Homo sapiens: one gene and its partners. The protein of the gene in region 4 interacts with the protein of the main gene of each other region in a biochemical or structural test. Each region holds a gene or a part of one and is shown on either strand. Other genes may lie near its edges.

What was found.
Region 1: of the proteins of BCAN (region 4) and MMP10, one has a biochemical effect on the other in vitro, tested with the Homo sapiens proteins (one study listed by BioGRID).
Region 2: of the proteins of BCAN (region 4) and MMP7, one has a biochemical effect on the other in vitro, tested with the Homo sapiens proteins (one study listed by BioGRID).
Region 3: of the proteins of BCAN (region 4) and MMP3, one has a biochemical effect on the other in vitro, tested with the Homo sapiens proteins (one study listed by BioGRID).

The regions. Positions count from the first base shown.
Region 1 is NC_000011.10:102,777,601-102,785,068, reverse strand, and holds the start of MMP10 (stromelysin-2 preproprotein), read left to right. Parts: upstream 1-4,440; 5' UTR 4,441-4,477; coding exon 4,478-4,582; intron 4,583-5,323; coding exon 5,324-5,565; intron 5,566-5,707; coding exon 5,708-5,856; intron 5,857-6,319; coding exon 6,320-6,445; intron 6,446-7,468. UniProt on the Homo sapiens protein: Can degrade fibronectin, gelatins of type I, III, IV, and V; weakly collagens III, IV, and V. Activates procollagenase.
Region 2 is NC_000011.10:102,527,722-102,535,515, reverse strand, and holds the start of MMP7 (matrilysin preproprotein), read left to right. Parts: upstream 1-4,768; 5' UTR 4,769-4,815; coding exon 4,816-4,923; intron 4,924-7,532; coding exon 7,533-7,759; intron 7,760-7,794. UniProt on the Homo sapiens protein: Degrades casein, gelatins of types I, III, IV, and V, and fibronectin. Activates procollagenase.
Region 3 is NC_000011.10:102,840,586-102,848,261, forward strand, and holds the start of MMP3 (stromelysin-1 preproprotein), read right to left. Parts: upstream 3,025-7,676; 5' UTR 2,962-3,024; coding exon 2,857-2,961; intron 2,332-2,856; coding exon 2,087-2,331; intron 1,995-2,086; coding exon 1,846-1,994; intron 1,695-1,845; coding exon 1,569-1,694; intron 9-1,568; coding exon 1-8. UniProt on the Homo sapiens protein: Metalloproteinase with a rather broad substrate specificity that can degrade fibronectin, laminin, gelatins of type I, III, IV, and V; collagens III, IV, X, and IX, and cartilage proteoglycans.
Region 4 is NC_000001.11:156,652,117-156,659,116, reverse strand, and holds part of BCAN (brevican core protein isoform 1 precursor), read right to left. Parts: intron 6,870-7,000; coding exon 6,225-6,869; coding exon of another isoform or gene 6,151-6,224; exon of another isoform or gene 5,645-6,150; intron 2,836-5,644; coding exon 2,728-2,835; intron 2,180-2,727; coding exon 2,021-2,179; intron 1,443-2,020; coding exon 1,360-1,442; intron 991-1,359; coding exon 846-990; intron 575-845; coding exon 384-574; intron 91-383; coding exon 1-90. UniProt on the Homo sapiens protein: May play a role in the terminally differentiating and the adult nervous system during postnatal development. Could stabilize interactions between hyaluronan (HA) and brain proteoglycans.

The DNA of each region.
Region 1 (7,468 bases), on a different chromosome or scaffold from region 4:
GAGCTGAAATTGCGCCACTGCGCTCCAGCCTGGGAGACAGAGTGAGACTCTGTCTCAAAAAAAAAAAAAAAAAAAGAATGAGAGATAAAGAACAGTGTCAAGACATAAAAGAAAAAAAGCTGGGGAAGAACCAAGGTCCAAGCCAAGAGGTTGTTTTAAAACTTTTGTTATTACTATTATTTTAAATATATTTGGGGGGTACAAGTGCAGTTTTGTCACATGGATATATTGCATAGTGTTGAAGTCTGAGCTTTTAGTGTAACTCTCACTGGAACAGAAGACATTGTGCCCCCATTAGATAATTTCTCATCCCTCTTTTCCCTCCCACCCTCTTGAGTGCCCAGTGTCTATTATTCCACACAGTATATCCATGTGTACACATTATTTAGCTCCCACTTGTAAATCAGAACATGCAGTATTTGACTTTCTGTTTCTAAGTTATTTCACATAACGTAATGACCTCCACTTCCATCCATGTTACTGCTAAAGACATTACGTCATTCTTTTTATGGCTGCATAGTATTCCAAACAGTATGAGGATTTCTCAAAGACCAAAAAAATAGAACTACCATTCAACCCAGCAATCCCACTACTGGATATCCACCCAAAGGAAAAGAAATCATTATGTCAAAAAGATACCTGTACTTGTATGTTAATCGCAGCACTATTCACAATAGCAAAGATATGGAATGAAGCCAAGAAGTTTTTGATAAACATCCAAGTTGTAGTCATGAAGGTTTCTTCTGGCAGTTCTGAATAATCTCTTCCCACTTGTTAGCTTTTGATCGTGAGCTTATTATTCAATTTTTCTAATCTCAACTTTGTTGGGTTGTTCTGAAGTTTAAAAATAACTCACATTTAAGAACTGACTACAGTGGAAGCTCAATACCAGGCGTTTCACCTTTCTTTAAGTATGAGCTCTGTATGCTTCCTTGCCTGACCCTATACATACTTCAGTAGGTTTAACAAGTAATGAATTATATAAAGACAAACATAGGACTCACCTGCTCCAGGGCATTAATTTCTACCAGGTGTCATGGTTTAATGCAGGACAAGTTTAAACACTAACATCATTTCTGTGAGGCATGTGCTACCCTATAGGCTCCCAATTATAGTCGTAGCTATTACTACAATGTAAACTTTCATTGTATCATTACCACATAATAAAATCCATTAACAGGATGTGTCAACACTAATAAAGTTATGACTCAAGCGAAAATGGGCATCTCACAGCTTGTCAAATCAGGGCCTAGGGGCATTGTCACAGATTTGTCAGGCCAACAAGCTTTGTCTGTTAAAGGTGTTGGAGTGAAATAAGAAGAGATTTGTTCCCCAGCATAAAGCATACAAAATAACTTTGTGAGTGTGGTTATATCCACCCCATTTTACAGATGACAAAATAATGGCCTGAATTAATTACACACAGTCATGTGTGACTTAACAATGGGGACACATTCTAAGAAACATGTCCTTAGGCAATTTATCCATTGTGCAAACACCATGGATTAAACTTACACAAACCTCTATGGTACAGCCTACTACATGCCTAGACTATGTGGTATAGCCTTTTAAAAATTTCTTGGGGAAAGTTATCCTCCCATCTCAGCCTTCCAAGTAGCTGAGAGTAGAGGTGTCAGCCACCATGCCCAGCAAGCCTATTACTCCTAGGCTACAAACCTATACAGCATGAAATTCTACTGAATACTGGAGGCAATTGTAACATAATAATAAATATTACTGTATCTACACATATTTTAACATTAAAAAATACAATAAAAAGATGGTATTAAAGATAAAAAATGGTACAACTATATAGGGCACTAACCAGGAATGAAGCTTGCCAGACTGGAAGTTGCTCTAAGTGAGTCAGTGAGTGAGTGGTGAGTGAATCTGTACACTATGTAGACTTTATGAACATTGTATGCCTAGACTACACTAAATTTATAAAAGCATTTTTCTTTCATCAATATAAATTAACCTTAGCTTACTGTAGTAACTTTTTTACTTTATAAACTTTTTAATTTAAAACTTTTTTTGACTCTTTTGTAATAACACTTAGGTTAAACACAAACGTTTCACAGAGGTACAAAAATATTTTTTTCTTGATATCCTTATCCTATAAGCTTTCTACTATCTTTAATTTTTTTTATTTTTTAAACTATTTTTTGAGAATGAAGACACAAAACACGAATTAGCCCAGGCCTACACAGGATCAGGATCATCAATATCACTGTTTTCTACCTTCACATCAAGTTCCACTAGAAGGTCTTTCAGGGCAGTAACGCTGATGCAGCTGTCGTTTCCTATGATAATAATGCCTGCATAGGGCAGTAACCATGGAATGCCTTCTGAAGGACCTGCCTGAAGCAGTTTTACAGTTAACTTTTAAAAAAAAGGTACACTCTAAAATAAATGATAAAATGTATAGTAAATGCATAAACAGTCATTTATCACTATTATCAAGAATTATGTACTGTACACAATTGCATGTGCTAGACTTTCGTATGGCAGCACAGTAGGTTTGCTTACACCAGCATCATCACAAACACATGGGTAATGTATTGTACTATGACATTATGTTGGCTACAATGACAATAGCTGATGGGTGCTTATCAGCTCTGTATTAGTTTGTTCTTGCATTGCTATCAAAAATACCTGAGACTGGGTAACTTATAAAGAAAAGAGATTTAATTGGTTCACGGTTCTGCAGGCTATATGAGAACCATGGTGGCACCTTCTTCTGGGGAGGCCTCAGGAAACTTACAATCATGGCGGAAGGCAAAAGAGGAGCCTGCACTTTACATGGCCAGAGCAGGAGAAGAAAGAGAGGGGCTAGGTGCTACACACTTTTAAACATCCAGATCTCATGATAACTCACTCACTCACTATGACAAGAACATCACCGATGGGATGGTGCTAAATGGGCATGAGAAATCCGCCCCCGTGATCCAATCACCTCCCACCAGGCTTCACCTCCAACACTGGGAATGACAGTTCGACATGAGATTTGGGCAGGGACACAGATCCAAACCATATCAAGCTCCATTATAATCATATGGGACCACCATCATATATGTGGTCCATTGTTGACTGAAACATTATACAGTGCCTGACTGTACTTGCTCAATGTCCAGCTGACTTTATTTGAGTCTAGTTGTCAGTCCTTCTCCCTCTGATATTCAAGCTGATGTCACCACACTGTAGAGCAAACTCTTTGGCAACAGTAAGTCACAAGTTGACTTGGCTGGCTCAGTGTATATCCCAGTTTCTCTCCAACTCTGGCTTGGAAGTCTCAGAGCCTCTTGGTTCCTGGAAGTCTCACCTGTCCAGGCTACCTTAAGTAGGGTGGGGATGGTGGGCGATACTGAAAAGATCATTCCTACACACTTATTATTTTAATCTCTCATCACTTTGCAATTATGTACTTCAGACATGGTAGAGTTAATTTATCTTTAGTGAGAGAAAAATATAGTTCTTTACTATAAGAATTTCAGGGTTCTTTATATTAACAGGTTAATTTGACAAAACAGTTATTGCAGACTTACTGTGTTACTGCGTAAAAAGCACTTTATTTGGCTGAGAAAACAAGAAAGAAAATACTATTTGTGGGCAGGGGTGGATCGTTAGACATGTGAAAGAAAGGGAGGATTTGAAATCATTTCCCATTACAGATCTCAATCCATCTCCTCCTTTGTACCTTAAGAGGAGAAAGAAAGGGGGAAAAGAATTTTTAAAAGCAAAGAAGAGGAAGAGGGTAGGAGGACCATTTCAGTCTAACATGCAATTTAATTTTTTCCATTTAACAAGTTTTATGGAGCAGTTACTTTGAACATAATTATACACTGGGAAATGGAGAATGAGTGAACACCAAAGCTTCTCTCTTTGGATTCTTTTCTCTACATGCTCCATGTCCTTCTCACAATACCCCTACTCCACGGCCAGTAAATCCATCTGAAAATCAATAATAGCTATTGTAAACAAGGACTCAAGAAGTGAAATATTTGTTTTAATATCTTTGTAAATAACAACTCCCACATTTAGACCACGACTATATTTGGAATTTATTTCCGTTGACCTACTTAATTCTTACCTGCTTATATTTAAGTTTAAAACATAATCTTCTTAAAAGAAAATTGCACTGATTTTAAAATGTCAAAACATTTGGCATTTTACCAAGCTTGTCAGCTCTCTTTAAGTAAATACAGAGACGTGAATTATCTAGCCAATTCTTTTTCGTCTTTACAAACACAGAAATCATTTCCTGGGGATTAATCATTCTTTCAAGTTTAGAAAGTTGAAGGAAAATACTGATGTAGGCTGTATCACCATTACATTAAATGTTTGTGAACATTCAGACTTAAAAAACACATGCATGAATCATACTGTTGGTGATCTCAGCATTGTCTCTGTATAAAAGAAAGGCCACTAGGGGGTAGAGCTAGAAGCCCAGTAGACAAAGAAGGTAAGGGCAGTGAGAATGATGCATCTTGCATTCCTTGTGCTGTTGTGTCTGCCAGTCTGCTCTGCCTATCCTCTGAGTGGGGCAGCAAAAGAGGAGGACTCCAACAAGGATCTTGCCCAGGTAATTAACGGTGGCATCTATTGCAGCTACTGGCCAGCTCAATTGTGTCTACTTGGTCTTCCAATACAAAGCAGAATGATTAGACTAGAGATCACTTTGTTAGAAAACTGTAGCATCAGAGAATAATTAACAGGCTGGAGGTGGAAATTATTTTTATGTTAACAGAGAAGAAAAGAAAGGTTCAGAAAGGGAATATAACTGCTCAAGGTTACAATAAAATAGTAGCAGTATATTTGTGGCTAAGTGAAAAGAACATATGGAGAATATATGAAACTCCTCTGGCTTTAGAATTTATTTAGTTAAAATTATTGGGGAGGGGAGCATGCTAAGTTTGATCTTTAAATCATATCAGGTAATAGTTTTCATATTTTTACTTGTCATATTTGGACAAAAGAGTTTACCACACTTCAGTCTTAAACCAGGTCTATAATAACAATGTAAGTAGAAAAGGTTAGTATTCTAACTTTTCACAAAACTATGTTAAAAGAGGGTTTCTTTAAAAACTAACAAAAATAATGCTAGACTTGAATTTTCAATCCCCAATTCCTTACTTGACTAGCAAACTAACATTGCAATAAAATTTAAAAATTTGTATGAAATGGGGAGTCTTAATGAAAAATCAAATTAAATGTGATAGCCTCTTTTGTTTTAAGAAACTAGAGGAAAATTACGATGGATTATAAAAGTTGGATAAATGATGGAAAATCACAAAAATGCCCTAAAAATTCTATTTTCCATTAGCAATACCTAGAAAAGTACTACAACCTCGAAAAGGATGTGAAACAGTTTAGAAGAAAGGACAGTAATCTCATTGTTAAAAAAATCCAAGGAATGCAGAAGTTCCTTGGGTTGGAGGTGACAGGGAAGCTAGACACTGACACTCTGGAGGTGATGCGCAAGCCCAGGTGTGGAGTTCCTGACGTTGGTCACTTCAGCTCCTTTCCTGGCATGCCGAAGTGGAGGAAAACCCACCTTACATACAGGTAATGGTTCAGATTAGTTTTCACATAATATTGAAACCTTATAAGTTACTCGTCATATTTGGATAAGTAACATAAAGTTTTCTTTAACAATTTTTCATAAAGGCAGGAGAAAATAACATCCTCTTCAATTTTTCTCCTCCAGGATTGTGAATTATACACCAGATTTGCCAAGAGATGCTGTTGATTCTGCCATTGAGAAAGCTCTGAAAGTCTGGGAAGAGGTGACTCCACTCACATTCTCCAGGCTGTATGAAGGAGAGGCTGATATAATGATCTCTTTTGCAGTTAAAGGTAATCAAATAAAGCATCCATTTATCTGGTGTATTCATCTGTTCAGACTGCTATAGCAAGTTACCTTAGACTGGGTAATTTATAAACAACAGAAATTTATTGCTCACAATTCTGGAGGCTGGGAAGTCCAAGATTAAGGTGCCAGCAGATTTAGTGTCTGATGAGAGCCTATTCCTCATAGATGGTACCTTCTGTGTCCTCACACGATAGAAAGGGCCAGGAGGTTCCCTCAAGCTTCTTTCATAAAAGCACTAATCTCATTCATGAGGGCAGAGCACTTACGACATAATCACTTCCTAAAGACCTAACCTCTTAATACTATATTTCATTGGGCATTGAGTTTCAACATATGAATTTGCAGCAGACACCAACATTCAGACTATAGAATCTACTGTTGTTTAATTGGAACAGGGTAAAAAGAAATTCTGAACACTTATATTTCCATTAATTTGTTCCCTATCAGAACATGGAGACTTTTACTCTTTTGATGGCCCAGGACACAGTTTGGCTCATGCCTACCCACCTGGACCTGGGCTTTATGGAGATATTCACTTTGATGATGATGAAAAATGGACAGAAGATGCATCAGGTGGGTCGTAAACCTCTCGGGAACATTTCAGGAATAATGTCCAATCCTACCCAAAAATAATTGGATTATCTAGAACGAGCAATAAATCGAATATACTAGTAACTGAATTTTTTTATTACCTGAGTTTTAAACAGAAGTACTGTTTGTTTCAATCATTATTGAAGAATTTTATAAAATGTCTGTATTTTCATGTTTGCCCCCACCAAGTACAATATTGTAAAAACCATTCAACCTCATCTCCACAACTCAGGATCTTGTGGGGGTTTGAGGATCAGCATAATTAATAATGTTTTTCATCACTTTAATGATAGATGATTAGGATAGAATGAATTCCATTAAACCAGTTCCAATCCTAACATTTGCCCTCAGGTTTTCTTTCTTTCTTCTCATTGGCCTCCTTTTTACTTAAAAGTAGAGATCAGGAGAAAATGCCAGGAACTGAAAAAAAACTGTTAGGTCATCTTTTCGAATAAACATGTCACTGTCTCTAGCTTAGATGGGTTTTTTTCGCCCTAAATTGGCTTGGAAACACTTTACATCTAAACATAATGACTAAAATTAACTGTATGCTATTTAATTTTTAAAATGGCTTCTGAAGTTTAGAAACACACTGTTGAAATAATCACTATTTCTGACAGTGCCTGGGATTTTTAATGTAAATGCAAAGAACATCTTTCCTGAGTACAAGACTCAGGAGGCTGAGGCACGAGAATCACTGAACCCAGGAGATGGAGGCTGCAGTGAGCCGAGATTGTACCACTGTACTCCAGCCTGGGCAACAGAGTGAGACTCTGTCTCACGAGACTGAAGTTTGTGTTGCATGAAATGATTGCCTTTTATTTGAACAACTGTTCTTTTCTGCACAATTCTTGGAGCCTTGGTTAAATAATATCTACTACTAAATTCAATAAAACCCTTTTTATAATATTTTTAAAAAGCTGAATCTAGCTGTGTTTGTGCTGCAGAAAACTGTTATTGGGCATGTTTCTGTTTTAAACTAAAGATTGTACACATCCAATGGCA
Region 2 (7,794 bases), on a different chromosome or scaffold from region 4:
ATTAAAAAAGAGTGAAATTCTGATAAATGCTACTACAACATGAGTAAATCTTGAAAACATTGTGCTAAGTGAAATAATCCATACACAAAAGGACAACTATTGTATGTTGACATTTATAGGATGTACCTGGAATAGTCAGATTGATAGAGACAGAGCAGAGTAGAGATTACTAGTCTGGAGGGAGAGGGGAGAAGAGAGCTATTCGTTAATGGATACAGAGTTTCTCTTTGGGATGGCAAAATAGCTCTCGAAATGGATATTGGTGATAATTATATAACGTTGTAAATGTACTTAATGAAACTCAATTGTACACTTAAAATGGTTAAAGTGGTAAATTTTATATGATGTATATTTTACCAGTTAAGAAAACATAGTTTCCTTCCTTAAAAATAAGTCACTCATAACCTATGGACCAGATCACTCTCATTAGCTCCAGACCCAATTTCCAGCTGAAACCTTGAACCCGATGTCCAGGATGTCCATGATGTCTTTACTTTCCCACGACCACATCTGTTTCCCTCACAAAATCAACTCCTAGTTTCTTTTCCTATAAGCCATGTTTCCATATTAACAGCTTGACCACCCACCAAGTCTATTAGGCTCAGATCATCCTTGATTTTCTTCTCATTCCTGCAGCCAATCATCTCCCCAGTTTTGGTTTTGTTTTGTTTTGTTTTTATCAATCCTACCTTCTACATACGTCTTGGATTTCCTTCCTCTTTTTCATCACTATGGTCACAATCTTAGTTTAGGGACTCATCTTCCCCCTGTCTCACCTGGATTATTGTCATAACTTTTTGCTTGGTCTATCTGCCTCTCCAGTATCCCTCTAGAGGGCATCATCTCATCTTCCACAATCTGTCTTTACAACCACCAGTAGCATTTTCTTACAGCATTTCAAATCTCATCATGCTGCTTTCTTCCTTTAAAACATTCCCTGATGCCCTTGGGATAAAGTCCAAACTCCCTGGCACACGAGGCTCGCTCTCAACAACTTGACCCCCACCTGCTTTTCCAACCACTCACCATCCCGGACCACAGCCACATTGACTGCTCGCTCTACTGTATCCATGCTCTTTTCCCATGTCTTCTTCCTGGAATGCCCTTTTCCAAGGGAACTCCTATTTACCCTCCAAAATCCAGCCAAAATGCCACCTCTTGTATGGATTACTCCTCAGTTCCCACAAGAAGGATTAACTGTTCCCTTCTCTTTGGTAGCTTTGCATATTATAAGCGAGTGTCATTTTGTTTTAAAAGTATTTACCTCCCGATATTGCCACCCTAGAGCACGAGCTTCTAAAGGCTGGAACTGGGACTTGATTCCACTGGGTCTTTTTTCCTAATTACAATTTAGATGAACAAGAGATTTCTTTCTCCTTATTCAAGAGTGAATATTGAAGGAAGTCACTAAAATTAATTTAAAGTGTTTGTAATTTCTAATGCTCTTTGAATTGCTAAAAGTAAACAGAAATGTAAAATACAAAATCTAGAAAATACCTTTTTTAAGACTTTATTTTTTTAAAGCAGTTTTAAGTTCACAGCAAAATTGAAAGGAAAGTACGGAGATGTCCCATATACCTCCTGCCCCCACACATGCATAGCCTCCCCCATTATCAACATCCCTCACCAGAGAGGTACATTTGTTTCTGTGTGTGTGTGTATTTTTTTTGTTTTGTTTTGTTTTTTTGAGACAGAGTCTCACTGTATTGCCCAGGCTAGAGTGCAGTGGCGTGATCTCGGCTCACTCCAATCTCCACCTCCTGGGTTCAGGTGATTCTCCTGCCTCAGCCTCCTGAGCAGCTGGGATTACACGCACCTGCCACAACACCTGGATGATTTTTGTACTTTTAGTAGAGACAGGGTTTCACCATGTTGGCCAGACTGGCCTCAAACTCCTGACCTCAGGTGATCCGCCTGCCCCGGCCTCCCAAAGTGCAGGGATTACAGGCGTGAGCCACCGTGCCCAGCCTATATTTGTTACAATTGATGAACCTACACTGACACATCATAATCACCCAAAGTCCATTGCATTTGTGTTCACTCTTGATGTTGTACATTCTATGTGTTTGGACAAATGCAAAATGACATGAATCCACCATTACAGTATTGTACAGAGTAGATGCACTGCCCCAGAAATTCTCTGTGCTTTGCCTATTCATCCTGCCTATCCCACGTCCAGCCCACACAACTACTGATATTTTTACCTATTTTTGCCTTTTCCAGAATGTTACATAGTTCGAATCATACACTAAGTAGCCCCGCAGATTGCTTCTTTCACTTAATAACATGCATTTAAGATTCTTCCATGTTTATTCATGGTTTCACAGCTCATTTCTTTTTAGCACTGAATAATATTTCATTGCCTGGATGTCCCGCAGTACATGTATTCATTCACCTACTGAACGACATCTTGGTTGTTTCCAAGTTTGGGCAATTATGGATAAAGCTACTATAAACATCTATATGTATGTTTTTGTGTAAACATTTATTTTTATCTCCTTTAGGTAAACACCAAGGAGCACCATTGCTGAATCATATTGTAAAAGTATGTTTCATTTTGAAAGAAACCATCAAACTGTCTTCCAAGGTGGCTGTACCATTTTTCATTTCCACTAAAACATCCTGCAATTGCCACTGTCAGCGTTCTGGATTTTGGCCTTTCTAATTGGTAAGTAGTGGTATCTCATTACTGTTTTGATTTGCATTTCCCCAATGACATATGATGTGAAGAATATTTTCATATGCTTATTCACTATCTGTATATCTTTTTTGGTAAGATGACTGTTAAGGTTTTTGGCCCATCTTTAAAATCAGATTGTTTGTGTTTTTATTGTTGAGTTTTAAAAGATACTTGTATATTTTGGATAACAGTCCTTTATTGGATATGTCTTTTTTTTTTTTTTTTTTTTTTTGAGAGAGAGAGAGAGTCTCCCTCTGTCACCCAGGCTGGAGTGCAGTGGAGTGATCTCAGCTCACTGCAACCTCTGCCTCTGAGGTTCAAGCAGTTCTCGTGCCTCAGCCTCCTGAGTAGCTAGGACTACAGGCACGCATCACCATGTTTGGCTAATTGTTGTATTTTTATTAGAAACAGGGTTTTGCCATGTTTCCCAGGCTTGTCTCAAACTCCTGACCTCAGGCAATCCACTGGCCTCAGCTTTCCAAAGTCCTAGGATTACAGGCGTGAGCCACCGCGCCTGGCCATGGATGTGTCTTTGCATTCATTTTCACCCAATTTGTGGCTTGTGTGCTCATTCACTTGAGGAAATGCCTTTTGATTTTAATTCAATGCAAATATTACCAAAAACGTGATATAATTCCATTTTTAGCTTATTCAAGTAAAGTTCATAAATATTCATTATTCTACAAATATTTATGGTGCACCTTATCACATGTCAAACTCTGACTAAGGATACCAATTACTCTAGTTAAACTGTGACCGTACAGAATCAAGACATCTCTGTAAAGAGAGCAAATTTAATTAACTGATCTGAAAATTTTACCTTTGCTGGCTCACAGTGCTCAATTACCATGTAATTGAAGTGATATGTGATTAATTAAATTTTTTAGCTCCAGCATATTTGGAGTGTTTCCCATGATGTATTAGAGTCAAAAGCCATGGTGTTCTCCCAAGTAATGTATAATATAATAAAAGAGACAGACCTATTACAAAATGAATAGGCAGTGCAGTGGGATAGAAAAAGCACTGAGCTACTATCTGTGTGAGCTGGGAGAAGTATAATAAGTTAAATTATCATCTTGGCCTCACTTTCATTTTTGGTAAGAATGGAGTCATTGGGCTAGAATCTGTAGGTAATGGATTCTTACTGCTATACGTAGAATAACCATTTTGTGTACTAAGGACCAATGCAGCCCTACCTGTAGCTGGGCAGCAGCCAGAGTCAGAGTGATTGGAAGAAAAAAATTGGATCTCCAAGTTGAAGGTCTAGCCTTGGAAGAATCTGTTACTATAAAATGAGAAGCAGAATAAGTAAGCCAGATGAAGAGTTAAACCCGTGCTTGTAGATTTTTGTTGGCTTGGTATTTTTTTGTGTTTAATTCAAGAAGAATTAGAGGCAGTGTTCCCCATTAAGAAAAGACATAAACTGATTAAAAGGAGACCCAAAGAAGGGAATTATCACTGCTCTGCTAAGGGACGTGGAAGGTGAGGGGACACAGCACAGTTGTATATAGAGTGGCCACTAATCCAGCCACACAGCAGCATTTCCATCTGCCTCCTGCCATCTTTCCCCTGTATGGAGAACCACAGGATTTTGGTGATGTTCTATTTCTTGACTTTGGTGACGGTTACAGTATTTGCTTAATTATTATTTCATTATTTACATGTTTTGTGCACTTTTCCAAACCTTTTAATTGTTAAGAATATATGGTACCATGTATTTAAGAATACATGGTACCATATAATAAGAATATATATTTAAGAATATATATTATTCTTTAAGAATATATGGTACCATAATGTCCTGAATGATACCTATGAGAGCAGTCATTTGACTTTGGCAAAAAAATGAGGTTTCTCATGGAGTCAATTTATGCAGCAGACAGAAAAAAAAATCCTTTGAAAGACAAATACATTGTGTGCTTCCTGCCAATAACGATGTAATACTTCCTCGTTTTAGTTAATGAAAAATAACACATACTTTCAAAGTTCTGTAGACTCTAAAAAGAAAGAAAACACTCAAATGAGTCACCTATTTCCACATTCGAGGCTGAGAAGCTATATAAATTTCTGCAGTCACTAGCAGAAAACACCAAATCAACCATAGGTCCAAGAACAATTGTCTCTGGACGGCAGCTATGCGACTCACCGTGCTGTGTGCTGTGTGCCTGCTGCCTGGCAGCCTGGCCCTGCCGCTGCCTCAGGAGGCGGGAGGCATGAGTGAGCTACAGTGGGAACAGGCTCAGGTATGTCACAGCCCACTTACTTAGGGTTCCATTCTTTTGCCATCTGCATTAAGAAATGTGTTTTTCAATTATTTCCCTTCCCATGTTAGCATTGCAGTGGAATTTTCTTTGGGGTGGTTCTTCGGATTATAAAAGCAATATATGTTTTCATCAAGTAGCCATTAAAAGCAGGTTTCAGAATCTGCTCAAATCGGGCTTGAGTTCCAACCCTCCACTCACTATGTAGATAGACTCAGGAAGGTCATCAAACTTCTCTAAGCTTCAGGTTTCCAATTTGGAAGTTGGAGATAAGAATGGTATCAACCAAATGAGGGTGTTGTGAAGCATTCAACACAATACCTGAAACATTGTTTAAATTAAGTTCTTATTTTTATTTATTATAACTTGAGATTCTTTTTCTATAGTATACAGAATATTGCCTCTTAAGATACAACCTGTAAATATACTGTTTGTGTATTTACAATACTGTTTGTAATGGAGATATCTGAAGTCAGAAAACATGGGTAGAAATTACAACTCTCCAACAAGTCAATGACAATAGACAAGGCATTAACATCTGACTTTGTTTTCTCATGTGTCCAGTAGAAAAAATAATATTATGTGTTTTATACCTCATGGGGTATTCTAGTAAGTAAATGAGGTGATAACAAAACCAACTAGCATGTATGTAACAATTGTAGATTATAAAGTACTTATATAGACATTGTGTCATTTAATCCTTAGTTCTATAAAAAGAGGAAACCAAAGTTAAACTGATTAGTGTACTTATTAGTGGTAGAGATAGAAATCAAGGACAAGTGCTTCTGGTTCAAAAATCATGTTCCTTGCAATATGCTTCTTAATAAGCAGTCTAATAAATATAAGCAGTCTACTAATTATTATTTGGTTAACTAATGGGATGATTACTTATAACTATTATTTGTAAATTTAGGCCTTAAGCATAAGAAAAGTCAATTTTTAATTCACATTAACTTAGACTTTTAAAAAGTTCCAGTTATAATAAGTTAGATTGAACCACATAAAGTTACTAGTATTTAACTTTTAAAATCTCCAAAACAGTAGTTTTATATGGTTCCACCTAATGAATTCTCCAGAAAGAGTACTCTGCGTTTAGTTTCTTTACTTAGAGTGAAGGTTGGCAGAAACTTAGTCTTCACTTGGAGGGATGTTAGCTAGGTTTAACAAAAAAACAGGAAAAGTCATCTCAACAAAGCAGAGAGATTTCTTCCAGAGGGTGTCTTGGTAAAGTCTGTAGCTCTAGAAGGGATTAAATGGGTTATTTGTTTTTAAATAAAGGATCAGTTATCAATTGTCATGGATGAACAATAAGTATTTGTTGTATTTAATGAGACAATTGTTGGTAACAGGAAAAAAAGACACAATATTAATAAGATTTCTTACATAAATTGCATATTCCTGGGCGGTCCTAAGACAGGTAACCATTACCATCTACTCCAAATAAACTGCAAATTAGTGAGCCAATGTTTAAATCATTTTAACAACAATATTATCAGGCATCATATAACCCTACACATGTTTCTAATGTATAGAAGTCAGAACACTTGAGTTCAAATACTGGTTCCTTCAGTTACTCACAAGGTGATCTTGTGCAATTTATTTCACTTCTCTGAGCTGTGTTTCTTCATGTATAAAATAGGGATAACAATGCCATACTTGTTTCATAGAGTGGTTATGAGGTTTACATAAAATAAATATGTAAGTGCCTGGCTCTAGTAAGTGCTTAAAAATGTTCCTGTGAGGTTGCTATTGTTGTTAGTTCATTCACTTTTGTTGTTGTTGTATTTGTGCTGCTGGATTCCTATCCTCATATTCAGATACTGAGAAACTTTAGAGAAATTCCCAGGAATCCAACCTTGCATGGAATAAACCTGGGAGTCCTACTGTATACTGCAATCTCCCAAAGTGGGTTTGACTAGAGATTTAACAGCAGAAAGAAGGGCTGGGAATGGAATGAGCAGAAAGAGGGAAAAGAGGACCTAGGAGTCAGGAAAGTCAAGTCCAGTTCTGCTACTAATTTAAGGTGTGAACCTGGGCACATAAATCATTTAGTTGCTATAAGCTTTGGTTCCTTCACCGGATTATTAAATTGAACTATTTAATAATTTCCTAATATCTTTTCCCAGAGCTAAAATTTTAAGACCCTTTAACTTTTAGCTGGAACCGCATCTCAGCTGGACTTTAGATAGGGCTGGTTGACCTCAGATCTCCCCCACAGGGTCTATGATAACACAGAGAATGTCCCAGTCGTACCCCTGAGGACAGACTGGTACATGCTTCCTGATTGCTCTTACACACTTCTAGGCTTTATAAAGTGTACAGTGTAATTCTCCCCAAAACATTTAAATGGATTTTTTAAAAATTGAGGGATTCTTTTCTTTTGCTCACGAAATGGCACGCCAGTGCTTCATTAGCAATATTAAATTTTCTCCTCACTAATGCACACTTATTTTTCTCTGTGACTATGTAATTATTCTGTCTTCAAATCATTATTTGAATTCACAGGAACCAAAGGCAAGAGATATATAGGCTTCTAAGATAAAAGAATATAATAAACAAGAACTATAGATTAATTACTCTCTTTTCAATAGGACTATCTCAAGAGATTTTATCTCTATGACTCAGAAACAAAAAATGCCAACAGTTTAGAAGCCAAACTCAAGGAGATGCAAAAATTCTTTGGCCTACCTATAACTGGAATGTTAAACTCCCGCGTCATAGAAATAATGCAGAAGCCCAGATGTGGAGTGCCAGATGTTGCAGAATACTCACTATTTCCAAATAGCCCAAAATGGACTTCCAAAGTGGTCACCTACAGGTTAGTTTTGCTCTGGCTCATTTTGGCAAAAACAA
Region 3 (7,676 bases), on a different chromosome or scaffold from region 4:
ATTGGTCCCTATTTAAGAAATTGAGAACAATAGTTACTTATTTTTTAAATACATGTGCATTACACAGGTCTGCTGTGCATTGTATTGGTTTTTACTTCTTGGAACCACACAGGGCTTTTTACACCTTGTTTGTTGGTTAATTGAACAATTGACTAATTACACACTTAATGGAAAGCTAAGTGTATTTTAAAACTCATACCTGTAATCAATCTTTGAGATTGATTTCCCAGTTACATCCACTTGCCCCCCATGGCCCCAAACCCACCCCCAGCCTCACAAGCATATTAACTCCAGAAGAACCAGATCCCTTTTCTTGTACTCAGGAATGGAATGAACCCACTTGCTTAGCATATCAGATATTTACCTTCATTTGTCAATGCAAAGCTAAACACTGTTTTAATATATTTACATTTGCCATTTGCAGTCTCAGTTAAAGGAAACTATATTCATGTTAATTGATAATGTCTCAGCCTCATCATCATGAAGTACATATTGAGACTAAAAACATGAATAATGATAGATGTCATAGGATTTGCAAAATTGGTTTAAAACACAGTATGCCCAATCATGTCTAGCATTTGTCACACAACAGATTTAGAATACATAAACACTGGCTTTATTCAAAATTTTTTCCTTCATATTTTTAAAAACACCCATAATGCTAAAATTGGGAGGCATTGGGTAATTATGATCAATATAGTAAGTAAATCTACCTTACTTTTGCTAGTATTACTTGTGTAACTTGTGATGCTAGGAACAATCTCATTTGAGAGTTTGCAGGAAGGTTTCTTTACAAGAATTCGTTAACTCAACCAATCAAGAATTCTATCCAGGACTAAACTCACATTTGTACGTCCTACAGAGGTTTACATTTTCATTATAAATCCCAGTTAAACCTCAGACATAGTATTAATTGTTTTCCTATTTTTTTAGAAGTAGTGTTAATTGTTTTAGCTGATTTTTTTGAAAACTTTGGATGTCATTCCCCAAAACATACAGTTATGAACTGAGAAACATTCTTCTACCTAAACAGTTTGAACGTTGTATTTGGGAGTTAGTCTTTTCCTTCAGAACAAGCCCATAAAAATTCTTTTAACCTAAAAGTACTAAAATAATGCCTCAGCCAGAAAAAAAAAAAAAAGAGAATCTCAGTTTCTGAAATTTAATTCTTATTTCTGGTTTGAAGAGTAAAGAAGTAAATGGAGGAAATTACATAAGTAACATCCAGAGCACATTTTAATGTAGATTCAGTGCAATATACTATCCCTTGAATGTTTGTATTTTGATATGAGAAATTTTTCTTAATAATGGTTACCCCTAGATCACAAAGATCCAGTCATTAAAGAAATACTTAATGATATTTCCTATATTGTGCTTACCAATATAGGAAAACTGTTAAAGCATCTGAAAATATTTTCAATAATAATTAAAACAAAAATATATTCTGCTGATCTCTGATCCACTGGAAAATCCAGAACATCTCATTTCTTGAGCATTCTTGGTTATTAACAGATTTCTACATATAAAAAAATTAATGCCAAAATCATTCTGAGAGATGTGTAACTAACCTGTTGTATCCTTTGTCCATTGTTCATCATCATCAAAGTGGGCATCTCCATTAATCCCTGGCCCAGGGGCATAGGCATGGGCCAAAACATTTCCAGGTCCATCAAAAGGGTAAAAGTCTCCATGTTCTAGTAGGAAAAAAATTTATTGGAAAGATATGTAACAAGGATCCCTTTTGAGCCTTTTCCAGTACAACAACACCAGATAGATGAATGGATACATTTCATGTGTTTTTTGTTTTGTTTTGTTTTGCTTTTTTTTTTTTTTTTTTTTTTTTACCTCTAACTGCAAAAGAGATCATTATATCAGCCTCTCCTTCATACAGCCTGGAGAATGTGAGTGGAGTCACCTCTTCCCAGACTTTCAGAGCTTTCTCAACAGCAGAATCAACAGCATCTTTTGGCAAATCTGGTGTATAATTCACAATCCTGTAGGAGAAAAATTGAAGCAGATGCTATTTTCTCCTATGATATAGTTTATAAAATTCCAATCTTATGTGAAAACCCCTCTGAACCATTACCTGTATGTAAGGTGGGTTTTCCTCCACTTCGGGATGCCAGGAAAGGTTCTGAAGTGACCAACATCAGGAACTCCACACCTGGGCTTGCGCATCACCTCCAGAGTGTCGGAGTCCAGCTTCCCCGTCACCTCCAATCCAAGGAACTTCTGCATTTCTCGGATTTTTTTAACAACAGGACCACTGTCCTTTCTCCTAACAAACTGTTTCACATCTTTTTTGAGGTCGTAGTAGTTTTCTAGATATTTCTAACAGAATAAGTATAGTTTTTAGGTCACTCTTACAATTTTTACTATAGCTATCTATTTATAGTAAGTTTTTGCAGTTGCTCACTTCTTAATCTATTTGGAGTATTTCTCTAGCTTGCTGAAATAATGGCAAATTTTATAATATGATACTAGCAACACAAATATTTAGCTAAAATTACGTTGCATTAAAAAAAAAACTGAAGCTGTTCCAAAGCAAGATATGGTTCATCCACTCTCCACTTGTTACTCATGTGCCTTAAGCCCCAGTGCTGCTACTGCTATGGTGTTGTGTGATCTTAAGAAAACACCTAATATTTCTGGCCTTTGTTTCTTCCTACATAAGAGGAGAAGCCCAAATGGTGTGATAATGAGACCTTTTCCACTTCCAACACTCTATAACTCTCTATTCTTGAACTGTTCCTACACAGTAAGCTCAAGCATTCTATGTGGGTTTTAAGACACACAGAATGGTTTCAGCTTACTCTGGAAGCTCCCCACCTGGCCAGGTCAGTTAGTGTTAATTACCTGAACAAGGTTCATGCTGGTGTCCTCACCCCTTGCAGCTCCATCCAATGGATAGGCTGAGCAAACTGCCACGCACAGCAACAGTAGGATTGGAAGACTCTTCATTTCCACTGGCTTTACTTAGCTCTATGTTGTCTCTATGCCTTGCTGTCTTGCCTGCCTCCTTGTAGGTCCAACCTCGGGAGCGCAGCTTTTAAAGAGTGACAGTGTTTGTTTGGATCACCCGCAGCTTGACTCATCCTTGCTTTCATCCAAATGGCAGCAGGACCATTTCCAAACATTCCAAATTCAAAGTAGGATGATACAACCTACTTTACTAATTTCTCTCAACCTTCCCAATTTTGCAAGGCAACACAGTGATTAATCTCCAGGAAGTGCTTCCTGTCTTGGTAGAGGAGAAAACTGGAGCATTTTTTTTCTTCTGGAAAAATTGACTGGAATTCACTAGACAATTTATGTTTGTCCTTTTGAGAGAAGAAGTAGGTTGACTTGGTAAAAATCAGAATTGTGCAGAACTTCTAAAAGCAGTTTTATTTTAAGAAACACATTATAAAAGCAAATAAAAGATGTAAGTGGAAAGTGTACATACATAGCTATAGTCTATACTATATACAATTATACTCAAAACATAAAAGATAATATCTAGAAGAAATTTAGAAGGGGTGATTTATTTTTCTGAATCTGATTTGTAATGCCTGCTATTGACTGTCGTTGGATTTGCTGGTTCTTGAGGAGGAAAACCTCATGGGCAGAATAGAACAAAGAGGGTCTGTGAAAAAGAAGGAAGTATATTCCCTTTGGGTTGGTTTTAATTCTGTAACCAATTTATTAATGGGTGATGGGCCCACGTAGCTGCTCCATAAATAGTTGTAGAATTGAAATGAATTACATTGCTTACCGGACTGAAATTCTCTCTGTCCTTGTCTTCTACACATGTCTTATTCTCTTTCAACCTTTTCCCCTCCTCCCTAAATTCAAATTAGCAGATGCTTTGAAGTTGAAGAACAGAATCCATCCTAAATTTTCTCTTCATGCTCTTCTGTTTTCTTCCTTTCCTTTCTTTTCTGTTTCTTTGTCAAGTAAAGTGTTGCTCACATTATTGGTGTATAATAAATGCTTGAATGCAAGACTCTAAACATATTCAGAGGAAGACATTTTGTAAAACTTTTATAGTCCTCTTGCCACCTGCCACCATCCATCTCCTCAATGCTTCCCTGATCACCACATTTTGTTTGTTCTTTCTTTCTTTGCTGACTTGCTTATTTGTTTGCTAAAGGGAAGAACATCTTGGGAGTAAGAACTCAGTAGAATGATGGATACAAATGTGCATTTATTAGACCTTTAATAAGTGCCCATTTTGCTTCCTCTCATTTATAACTCTTTTGCATTTTCTTCTTTGCTTTATTTTTTGTGTGTTTCTTAATAAACATTGGAGAGATTTTACCCAATAAGTTTAAAGGGATTTCTCTGTGGCAATAAGATCCCTATGACTGAAGATGCCCACACAGTTGATAGCCACTTGGCAGGGGGCTATACATCACATTTAAGCCTTCATTTTTAGACTAGATTATGTCTAAAGACTTTTTCAAATTTTATTTAAAAAATAGAGACAGAGGTTTCACTATGTTGCCCAGGCTGGTTTCGAGCTCTGGGCTCAAGTGATTCTCCTGCCTCAACCTCTCAAAGTGCTAGGATTACAGACATGGGTCACGGCACCTGGCCTAAAGACATTTTAAAACTAGTATTCTATGGTTCTCCATTCCTTTGATGGGGGGAAAAACCATGTCTTGTCCTGATTGAAATACAGGGAAAATATTTGGCCACATTGATATGAGGACAAGGAGAACAGAGTGGTGGCAGTGATGTGAATTCCAGGAAGAAACAGTGGAGCCCAACAGATAAAATATTGAGAGGTTAAAAGTGTAGAAGCTGTGGCAGCTCTAATTCCTTCTATATTAAGGTTTATCCTTTGTAAATTTTCTCTGGAGTTATAACTTATAAAACATATTTAAAGTTTAGAGGAAAGCCTGATAGATAATATGTTTGCTTTTCCAACTGTTAAGATGTGATTGGCAAAATGGGCCATGCTGTTCCTGAACTAAATACAAAAGTTTGCTATATTTTAAAACAGCTTCGACGACTTCCCTGAAAGATGTTTCCCAAGTCCCAGGAAGAGTCATTAATCATTGTTCAATGGTACCTTGTACCTGCCTCTGCTACTCTATTTTCCACACTGAACTGTAGTGAAATGGTTTATCTGTCTCTCTCATTCTAATGTAAGCTACTTGAGGGTATGGACCATGCCTCATTTGATTCTGTATTCCTAGTACTTAGCATGGTATCTGATATATAGTAGGTAACCAAAAATTACTTAGAGAACTAAATAATATATTAGTTATGAGTGAAAGGCTCATAGCAAATGTCAAACAGGTAAATTAAAAGTCAAAAAATCCAAAAATCATGCAGACATTTCTAGATTTGCAGATTCTACATGTCATATATACTAAATACTCTAAAAACTAAATTTTTTAGAAGTTGTATTTCCACAAGAAAAGATCAAGCTATCATCTAAAATCTCTCTAATATATAATTGAAGTCCTCATTCATATGTCTGCAGAACACTCAAACTAATCTTGTAGAACCAGAAGTTTTCTAACCGTGCATGAGACAGTCAAATTGCATTTTGTAGAGTATGTTTTAAAAATCAATGCAGTAATGAGAAGGAATAGGTAAAATTAAAGAGCAACTGAGTGTAAGAAGGAACGGAGGGAGAAGGAGGGAGAAGAGAAAGGGGGAGGAAGATGAGGAGAGGGGAGGAGGAGAGCAAACACTCCAGGTGTAGAGGGAGGAACTGAATACTAGCGGAAAAAAAGTGGGCATTTCCAGCAAGAAATCAAAATGACTGTTCCACAGAACAATCATTTGTTATATGGTTAAATAAATACAAGGGTCAGATAATGGCTAGTTTTATAAATCTGACCTCCCAGGGATCAGCGGCTTAGAATTAAATTTACATTCAATCTAATCCTTGGATTTAAAAACTGGCAGTGATCCCAGGTAACATTCTATCTCGTAACTTTTCACATTTGTCTTCCTATTTGTCACACTTCTCCATGACTAATCAGACATGATTGTGCAGGATCCTTGCTACCTCTAGCTGATAACTGATATAATCATTATTTCAGCTATACATTCATTTATCAAGTATCTGAGTCTCAAGGGCTTCAGAATACCCAAACTAAGAGTATAGATTTGGAGATAAAGTTTAGAAAATTTTAGTAAAAAAAAAAAAGTGAACAAACTAGCTGTTTAAAAGCAGGAAAGAAAGAAGAAAGGAAGGAAGGGAAGGAGGTATAGGAAGGAAGGAAGGGAAGAAGGTAGAGGAAGGAAGAAAGGAAGGAAGGAAGAAAGGAAGGAAGGAAGGAAAAGAGGGAGGGAGGGAGGGAAGGAGGGAGGGAGGGAGGGAAGGAGGGAAGGAGAGAATATAACCTAGCCAAGGAAAGAATCCCCTATATAATTAATTCTATAAGAAATAAGCCTGGTATGGTGGCTCCTGCCTATAACCTCAGCACTTTGGGAGACTGAGATAGGAGGACTGCTTGAGCCCAGAAGTTGAAGACCCACCTAGGCAACATAGGGAGACCTCAGCTCCACGAAAAAATAAAAATAATTAGCCACTTGTGGCAGTGCACACCTGTAGTCCCAGCTATTTGGGAAGCTGAGGCAGGAGGATCACTTGAGCCCTGGAAGTGAGCTGTGATGGTGCCACTGCACTCCAGCCTGGGCAAGAGAGCAAGACCCTGTCTCAAAAAAAAAAAAAAGTAAAAAGTTGTACACGAATTAAGCAGAAGGTGCTTGCTTACTTTAGGTGTTTCCTTTAGAAAAAACTCATAGATAAAGTAGCAGATAAAGTGAGCCTGGAATGATCTGGAAATGGAGGAAAATTGCTTCTTGGCCTTTTGGCTAAGAACAAGGGTGGAAATGGAGGAAAATTCAGTAACAGAGTATACAAGTATGCAGAGTCAAGAAAGACTCTATATGGAAAACGTCAAAGAGTTACTTTTTATTGAAATAAAAGGTATGTGAAGGGTAATAATGGAAAATAAAAAATAAAGTTGTGAAAAGATAGGTTGGAGTCCAGTCATAGAAGACCATTAGTCTGTAGCTAAGGTGCTTAGAGCTTATTCCATTGTTGGTGGAAAGCCATGTGATATGGTCTGGCTGTGTCCCCAACCAAATCTCATCTTGAATTGTAACTCCAACAATTCCCACATGTCGTGGGAAGAACCCAGTGGGAGGTGATTGAATTATGGGGGTGGGTCTTCCCTGCGCTGTTCTCATGATAGTGAATGAGTCTCATGAGATCTGATGGTTTTAAAAATGGTAGTTTCCCTGCACAAGCACTTTTTTTGCCTGCTGCCTTCCACGTAAGACATGACTTGCTCCTCCTTACCTTCTGCCATGATTGTGAGGCTTTCCCAGCCACGTGAAACTGTAAGTCCATATTAAACCTCTTTTTCTTTCCAGTCTCTGGTATGTCTTTATCAGCAGTGTGAAAACAAACTAATACACTAGTTTCTACAAAACATTTTAAATAAATTTTACATACTTAAATAAAACGTTAAATGTTTATTATAGAAAATTTAGAATATATAAAAAAGTACAAAGAAGAAAATAAATCTTTTATAGTCATGACCCAAAAAGAAAAACACTACTAACAGTATTAACTATGTATTTCCTCTAATTTCTTTATACCTGTGTATTCTTTTTCACATCATGCTGATCATGGGAGTTTATAAAATTTCATCTATATTTTCCAC
Region 4 (7,000 bases):
GCTGGAAGGGGGGATCAACAGCGCCTTCCAGCGTCCCAGTAGCCTCCCCTGACGTCCTTCTGGGTCCTCCTCTGGGTGCAGAGCTCGGGCCTGGGGAAGACACACACTCACCCTCCACCCTGGCTCTTCCTTCTCCTCTCCTCAGAGCCTGCCCTCTGATGTTCTTGCTCAGCCCGTAAGAGCCCAGAATGGGGCTGCATGTTATCAGACATCAGCACTGAAGGAACCCCAGAGCCTCCAGCCCACCTCTTCCCCTTTGCCTCAGAGAGGGGCAGTGATGGCTCCAAGGTCACATGGCCAGTGACAGGCAGGACTTTAAGTGGAGTCCAAGGCTACTGTTGGCTACTGTCTCCCACTCCCACCTGCCTCTTCCTGGCACTCACAGGTCTTCTGGGCACACAGGAGATCTGGGGGGCCTCCCAACGACCGTTCTCTTGGCATCGGATCAGCGGCAGATTGCGCTGGGCCAGTCCTTCCCGGCACCGGTAGCGAAGCACAGTGTCCACCTCATAGCGCAGCCGTGGGCGGCCGAACACTTGAGCCAGGGGCAGCTCCGGTGGCGGCCCACAGGACACTGCAAAGGAAGACAGTTAGGAACTGAGCCTGGCTCTGTGGGTGACAGTTCCCAGAATCTCCATGGGGAAGAGAAAAATGGGCCACAACATGACAAAAAAAGATCAGGGATTCCGAGTGGACCCACGTAACTTGTTAGCTCTCCCATGGTCTGGAACACGTTCTGACTCCTCTATGTTGCTTTGCACTCTCTGTCTACAAACATCAGTCCCTCTGGTCCCCTAGCCCACCCCTCCACTTCCTTGCTGGGACCCTCCTTTGCCTGCCCTCACCCAGCCCCATCTTGCAGGTGTAGGACAGGTGGTAGTTGCAGGGCACGTCACTCCATTGTCCCTGATCATGCCACACCATGACCACGCAGTTCTCTCCAGACAGGAAGTAGCTGTCAGGCTGCCCAGGGTTCCAGTTCTCATAGAGCTGGGGGAACGGAGGAGGTGGTGAGGAGCTCCTACACCAGGAGCACCGGGAGAGGGCCTAGAGGATCTGGGGAGGAGGGCTGGTGAGCGGGGCCCCAGGAGAGGGAAGGTTAGGGCTAGGGGGTAGGGGATCTCCCGGGGAAGGGGAAAGGAGAGGGCAGGGACTTTAGGGGAGGGAGAATGGGAGCCAGAAGGGAAGAAAGAGGACACAACGAAGGGAGGAGAGCCCAGGGAGAAGAGGCACAGGGCACGAGAAAGGGAAGGAGGCCGGAAAAAGAAGGGGACAGGGTCGGGAGGGGTGGGGGTGGTAGGGAACAGAAGTGCTTAGAGGAAGTGAGCTAGACGGCGGGGTTCGACTGGGGCCTCTCACCAGGGGGACGCCATCCGACCACAAGAAGTCGCCTTCGATGGTCCTGTCGTTGAGTCCGATCCACTGGTACTCCCGGTACCGGTCTAGGGAGACGAAGGCGTGCAGTGAGCGCAGCCGCCAGCAGATGGCGGCCGTTCCCCGCTCCCGGGCGGTCTGCGGTGACTGCCTTGGAAACCCTTCCCCGCGATCCAGCACCCGCCCTTGTCGGGTTCTTCTACCCCAGCCTCTGCTCAAGGGCCAGATGGAAAGCAGGGGAATGGGGGTGGGAGAATAAGGAAGATATCAACCCAGGCTAGAAAAGGGGAGTTTTGGAAAAAGAGTCAAAACTTTCAACAAGATTGGAGTTGGAGTTGGAGGAGGCCGACGGAGGTCGGAGAGCAGGGAGGTTGGAGGGATTGGAGGCGGCCCCCTGCACGGCGGCCCGGCCCACACAGGCGCACTCTACTGCGCGAACCTCCACTCTCCGTTCCCGAAGGCCACTGCCTAAGCGTAGGGTGGGAAGGGAGAGAGAATGAGAAGGGGAGTGAACGAATGAGTGAGGGAATGCACGCTTGAGAAAACCAAGGAATAAGTGCATGGGTTAATGAGGAAGGCGGTTAGGCGAGTGAGAGAGAGTGAGAGCATATGGCAGGGGCCCCTCCCGCCCTGTCTCCCAGCCCACTGTTGATGAAGTCCTGTTCCTCGGGTGTGCTGATGCTGGCCAGATGCGCGCCGTACATCCGGCACTGGGTCTCTGCCTCCTCCCAGCTCCTTCGTGTGGAAAAGTGCTTGTAGCAGGCGCCCTGGAAGGCGTCCCAGCCGGGGTTGCAGAAGCGGAGGCCTGCGGCACATAAGGGCGGGCATCTTAGGGCCCCAAAACCCAGAGGGCCAGGTCCCCTGGAAGGGGCTGGTCTCCTTCCACTACCGCAGGCCGAGAGGGGCGGGACTAAGGGGGACAGGAGGGCGGTGCAAAAGAGCTAGTAGAGAATGAGGGGGTAGCAGGAGCCTGGAGGGGCTCTTGGGCAGGGGCGCTGGTGCCTTTTCTAAGAGACAGGAACCAGGGTGAGGGATGGAGTTCCGGCCTGGGTCTCCATCCTAACGAGCAGTGGCTCTCCTCTCCAGGAGAATGGAGCCTGTCATGTATTGACCACCGATTAAATGCCAGGAGTATGCTTTGCACTGGTCTCAAATGGACCCCCTATGAGAGGCATTGTGGTTTCACTTAGATAAGAAAATTGAGGGTAGGACTCAAAGAAGTTATGCAACTTGCCTAAAACAGGGACTCATTAATGACAAGGCCAAAACCAATGTTCTCCCTCCCCCCTCCAGAAGTAGCACGTTGTGGCAGGGTCCAGGCTTCAAACCTGCCCCCCGTCCCTCAACACTCACCAACATCGCACAGGTCCCCCCCATAGCCAGGCAGACATAGGCAGCGGACCCCTTCCTCCTCCTCCAAGCATGTCCCACCATTGTGGCAGGGGCTGGGGACACAGTCACCTGAGAGGGGGAAAGAAGTGAGGCGGGGGGAGCGAGGCAGCCGCACTCTGCAGCCTGAGCCCTCCAGGAGAGGGTGCAGAGGGTCCCCCAGCCCTGGTCTCTCTGTCCTGGAAGCTATAACAGCACCCTAAAAGTTCTCCCTAGAGCCTGTCTCTGGTCACAACCCAGCCCTGAGTTCTGGGTTTCTTTCCTCTTCCCGCTCCCGACTTCAGCATTGGCTCAGCCTTCCATTGTTATGGCCACCAGTGTGAGCCCAGCCCAAAAGGGGCTGGGGAGAAGAGGCTAGGAGAGCCCTGAGAACCCAGCCCCACAATGGAGAAAGATACTGGGCACAGAAAGTTATAGCTCTAAACTCTTATCTGGCTTCTGTGTGATATTGGGCAGGTCATTTTCCTTCTCTAGGCTTGGAGTTTAGTGCCACACCCCCTTGTCTTTGTGCCAGGTCCCAGCACAGTTCTGTATAGTCCAGGTGGAATGAATGGAAGTGAAGGAGGGGACAGAAGGATTACCGCAGCAACAGTGGAGGGTGGTATCCCTTGACTGCTCCTGAGACCTGATATTGGTGTGGTCCAGGTGAATACTAACCATTCCTCCTGCTGTCCACTGGGCAGTCAGCCAGTCCCAGAAGTGGTTAGTGGAGATCCAGCCCACTTTCCTCACTCTAGGCCCTGCCCCTTCTCCCCCAGCTTAGGAACTAAGTCGCAGCAGCTCCCATTGTCCTGCAGTGCTGACTGGCCTCACACATGCAGCTTTCTCTCAATATCACCCAACCTCTCACTTCCCCTTCTTATATCCACAGACTCTTCCACTTACCAGGCTCCCTCTCCCAACTCCACTTTGGGCCTTCTGCAGGTTCTCCAACCTAGAATCCATCTCAATCCCTCCTTCTGGCTCCCTCTCCTCCAGGCAGTCCTCTTAGACTAACACACTGCCCTGAAGGTCTGCAATCTGTTGCCTGGATCTAGCTCCATCTGGCTAGGCCATCTGCTTTACTGGACTTTTTCTCTCTGTATCCTGGGGTAGGAGGTGGCTGTCCTTAGGATGTGCTTGGGTGCTACAGGAGCTGTCAGTTTCCAATCCTTTCTGGTTCAGATGACCCAAAGGAAGATGGCTCCACAGACCAACTGTGTAGGTCATGGCCCTCAGCCATGGTAAGGTCAAGGCCCTCAGCCATGAGAGGCAAAACCACTCCAGGGCAGAACCCTTCAGACTTTACCATCCACCTCTAGAAGCCATGGCCAAGGTCCACAGTGCTTCCCGCTGGCCTGGCCACAGGTCCCACTGCCTGGTGGGAATCAGTAGGGGTGGAGAGAGGAGAAGCTGGAGTGGATTCAAAGAATTTTGCTGGGATGACCTAGCTGTTTTGGGTGAAATGAATCAGCTTTTCCAGCAGCACTCCTTCTGTCATCTTCCCTCCTGCCAATAGTTTCTTCCCAGCTTGTGGTGCTGCCCACCTCCCAACCCCAGAGGAAGAGGTATTTCATTTAACCCATTAAGCACCAGGCCCCACAGAGGGTAGAATTCTGAACTCCCCTCCCACTCCTCACACTTTCCTGTCCCTCCTGTTGTCCTTTCTGCTCCTTCCCATTCAACCCTCCAACCCTGGGGGACAGAGGCTCTCAAACTTGGTCTTTGGTCCCCTACCCAAGCCATAGGCCCCTCCCCCTGGCTGTGGGCTACAGAACCTGAACCCAGCGCAGGCAGAGTCGGGTGAAGAACTCTTCTTCTTGTCATTTTCCCTCTCCCTTTTTGGGGACAACTATTCTACACAACCAGAAAGTTTTCCCTTTCTTTCCATTGAAACAGCAGCCAAGGAGACCTCTCACTTACCCTCCCGGTGGGGAAACTAAGACACTGTAGATACCTCCAATTGTGCTCCTCTTCCCACCAAACCCCCTCCCTATCCCCCACAGGGCTGAACTCCAAGGCCAGTTGTGCAGGGACCTAACAGTTGACATGGGTAAGCCTGGGTGGGACTCAGGATGTGATCCATCTAACATGGGGGTCCTAGGGCTAAGGGAATCCCAGCCTTCTCCAGGAACCTCCACTGGGAATCTTAGCCTTCCTGAGTAGAGAGGGCTTCTCTCAGACCCCAGAACCTGATTCCTTCCTTCACACTCTCCATCACTTGCTTTTGATCAGTGTCTTCTCCAGCATTAGGTACTTTGAGACCCTTTGGGTCTGGGGAGGGTGAAGCCATTCCTTCTGGAGAGTAGGGAATGATCATTAGTGCAGGAGTTAGTGGAGAAGACGGAAGTTGTAGGTAGTGGGATGAGAGTTAGATACCACCCCCTGCTGAGATGCAGGGCTAGGGGATGGGGGTGAGGGCAACTGAATGCCAGGGAACTGCCTCTATGCTGAGAGACCCTCAGTTCCCTCAGTTACTATGACCCTTGGCACCACCAAGATGGATTGGAAGTGAATATAAATGCACAACACATGCACTCCGGGCTGCAGGGGTTTCTCCTCATCAGGAGTGAGGGACTACAACTCCCAGCACTGCCTCAGACTATGGATGATGACTTCTCCAGGGGTAATGTGTACAGTCAAATTTTGGGATCTTAGCAGCCAGGAAGGAAAGTGTAGACAGGCCTGAGAAGGAGAGGCTGGGGGAACAATGAGGGGCTGTTAGACTGCCAGGACAGACAAGGGGAGAAGCCGAAAATGAAAAAGGAAGAGAGGCCAAGACACACACAGAGACAGGGAGAGACATGGAGCCAGAGAAGAAGCATCCAAGTGCTCCCCATGACACAGACCCATGGAATGAGAGAGGTGGACAGCAGGAGATGGAGACAGAGGGTACCAGAGCTTGGTTACAAAGCGGTTTAATAGAGATTTATTTCCAAGGCTTGTTTTCCATGAAACAGTCAAAAAATACTTCACAGAAGTAGTTGCTTAAGGCTCTGTGGGGGTACGGGTTCTCCTGGACTCCGGAGGTTGAGGGGTGAGAAGGGACTCCCAGGCTTCCCTGAGATCAATAGGAGGCAGCTAAAGGGGACGGCACACAGGCGGATGAAGGGAGTAGTGGAAAATAGGCCGAGCCCTGAAGGCTGCAATAGGTGATGAGGACCCTTGGAGAGGCCTGAGGATGCTCTGTGGGGCTGGCGAGATGTGAGCCACAGGTGGAGGGCCCAATGGCAGGGAAGGGTCACAGATGGTCAGTGGCGGGGCTGGGATCACAGGGTAAAGACGCGGAGAGCTGAGATACCCACAAGGTGGATATCCGAGATTGGAGACCCATAGGTAGAGGTGGGTAAGAGAATGAAGGCAAAGGACAGGAGAGTTTGGGATGATGGTGGGTTAAAGGACTACAGGTCAGGTGACCCAGAGCTGCAGGGGGAAGAAAAGGAGTAGGATAGAGAGGGCAGTTGAGCCTTGGGCAGAATTACCTGATGCGGGGACCACGGCCACTCCACCTCGGCTGGCGCTGTCAGTGGGCAGCACTGGCTGGGCCTGCACTGAGGTCCCTGCTGGGGCAGTTCTTCCAGAATTATCTTCAGAGGGGGCCTCCAGCTCCCTGGTACCCTCAGGGGCCCGTGTGGCTGGAAGCAGGGAAGGGGCACCCTCGGAGCTTCCTGTCTCCTCGCTCTCTCCTCGAGGGACCCCAGATAGCTCAGGACCACCAGTTGCCTCCCCCACCTCTCTTGCCTCAACCAGAGTGGAAGGTGATGGGGATGCTAGGTTCCTCTCCCTGGGAGTGGGCAGAGTCTCAGTAGGTGGTCCATGGACCCTTGGAGGCCTGGAAGCTTCTGACTCTCCATCAGGAAGTGGTGATGCACCAGGCTGCAGGACTGCCCTTGCTGGCGCCTGGGAGAGTGACTCCTCCTGGGCTGCTGGCTCAGTGGGGAGAGAGGCCTCAGGGCCCGGGCTGCTGAGCTCGCTGGGCCATGCCCACAGAGCCTCATCCTCCACCTCCTCCTCTTCTTCTTCCTCCTCTTTCTCTTCTTCATCTTCATATTTCTCTTCTTCCTCCAATGCCTTACCTTCCTCTTCTGAGAACCCCGTGGGCGGTACCATGGATTGTGTTTCAAATTCTAGGCAAAGCACAAACGGTTCAGCACCAGGGACAGCGTCTGTCCAAGGACCGAAAGGAAAAAGGGAAGGGGAGAAAAGTAGGGCTCAGGAGGGTGAGCCCTGGGGAATAGGGAAGAGACCGCCCTGAGGA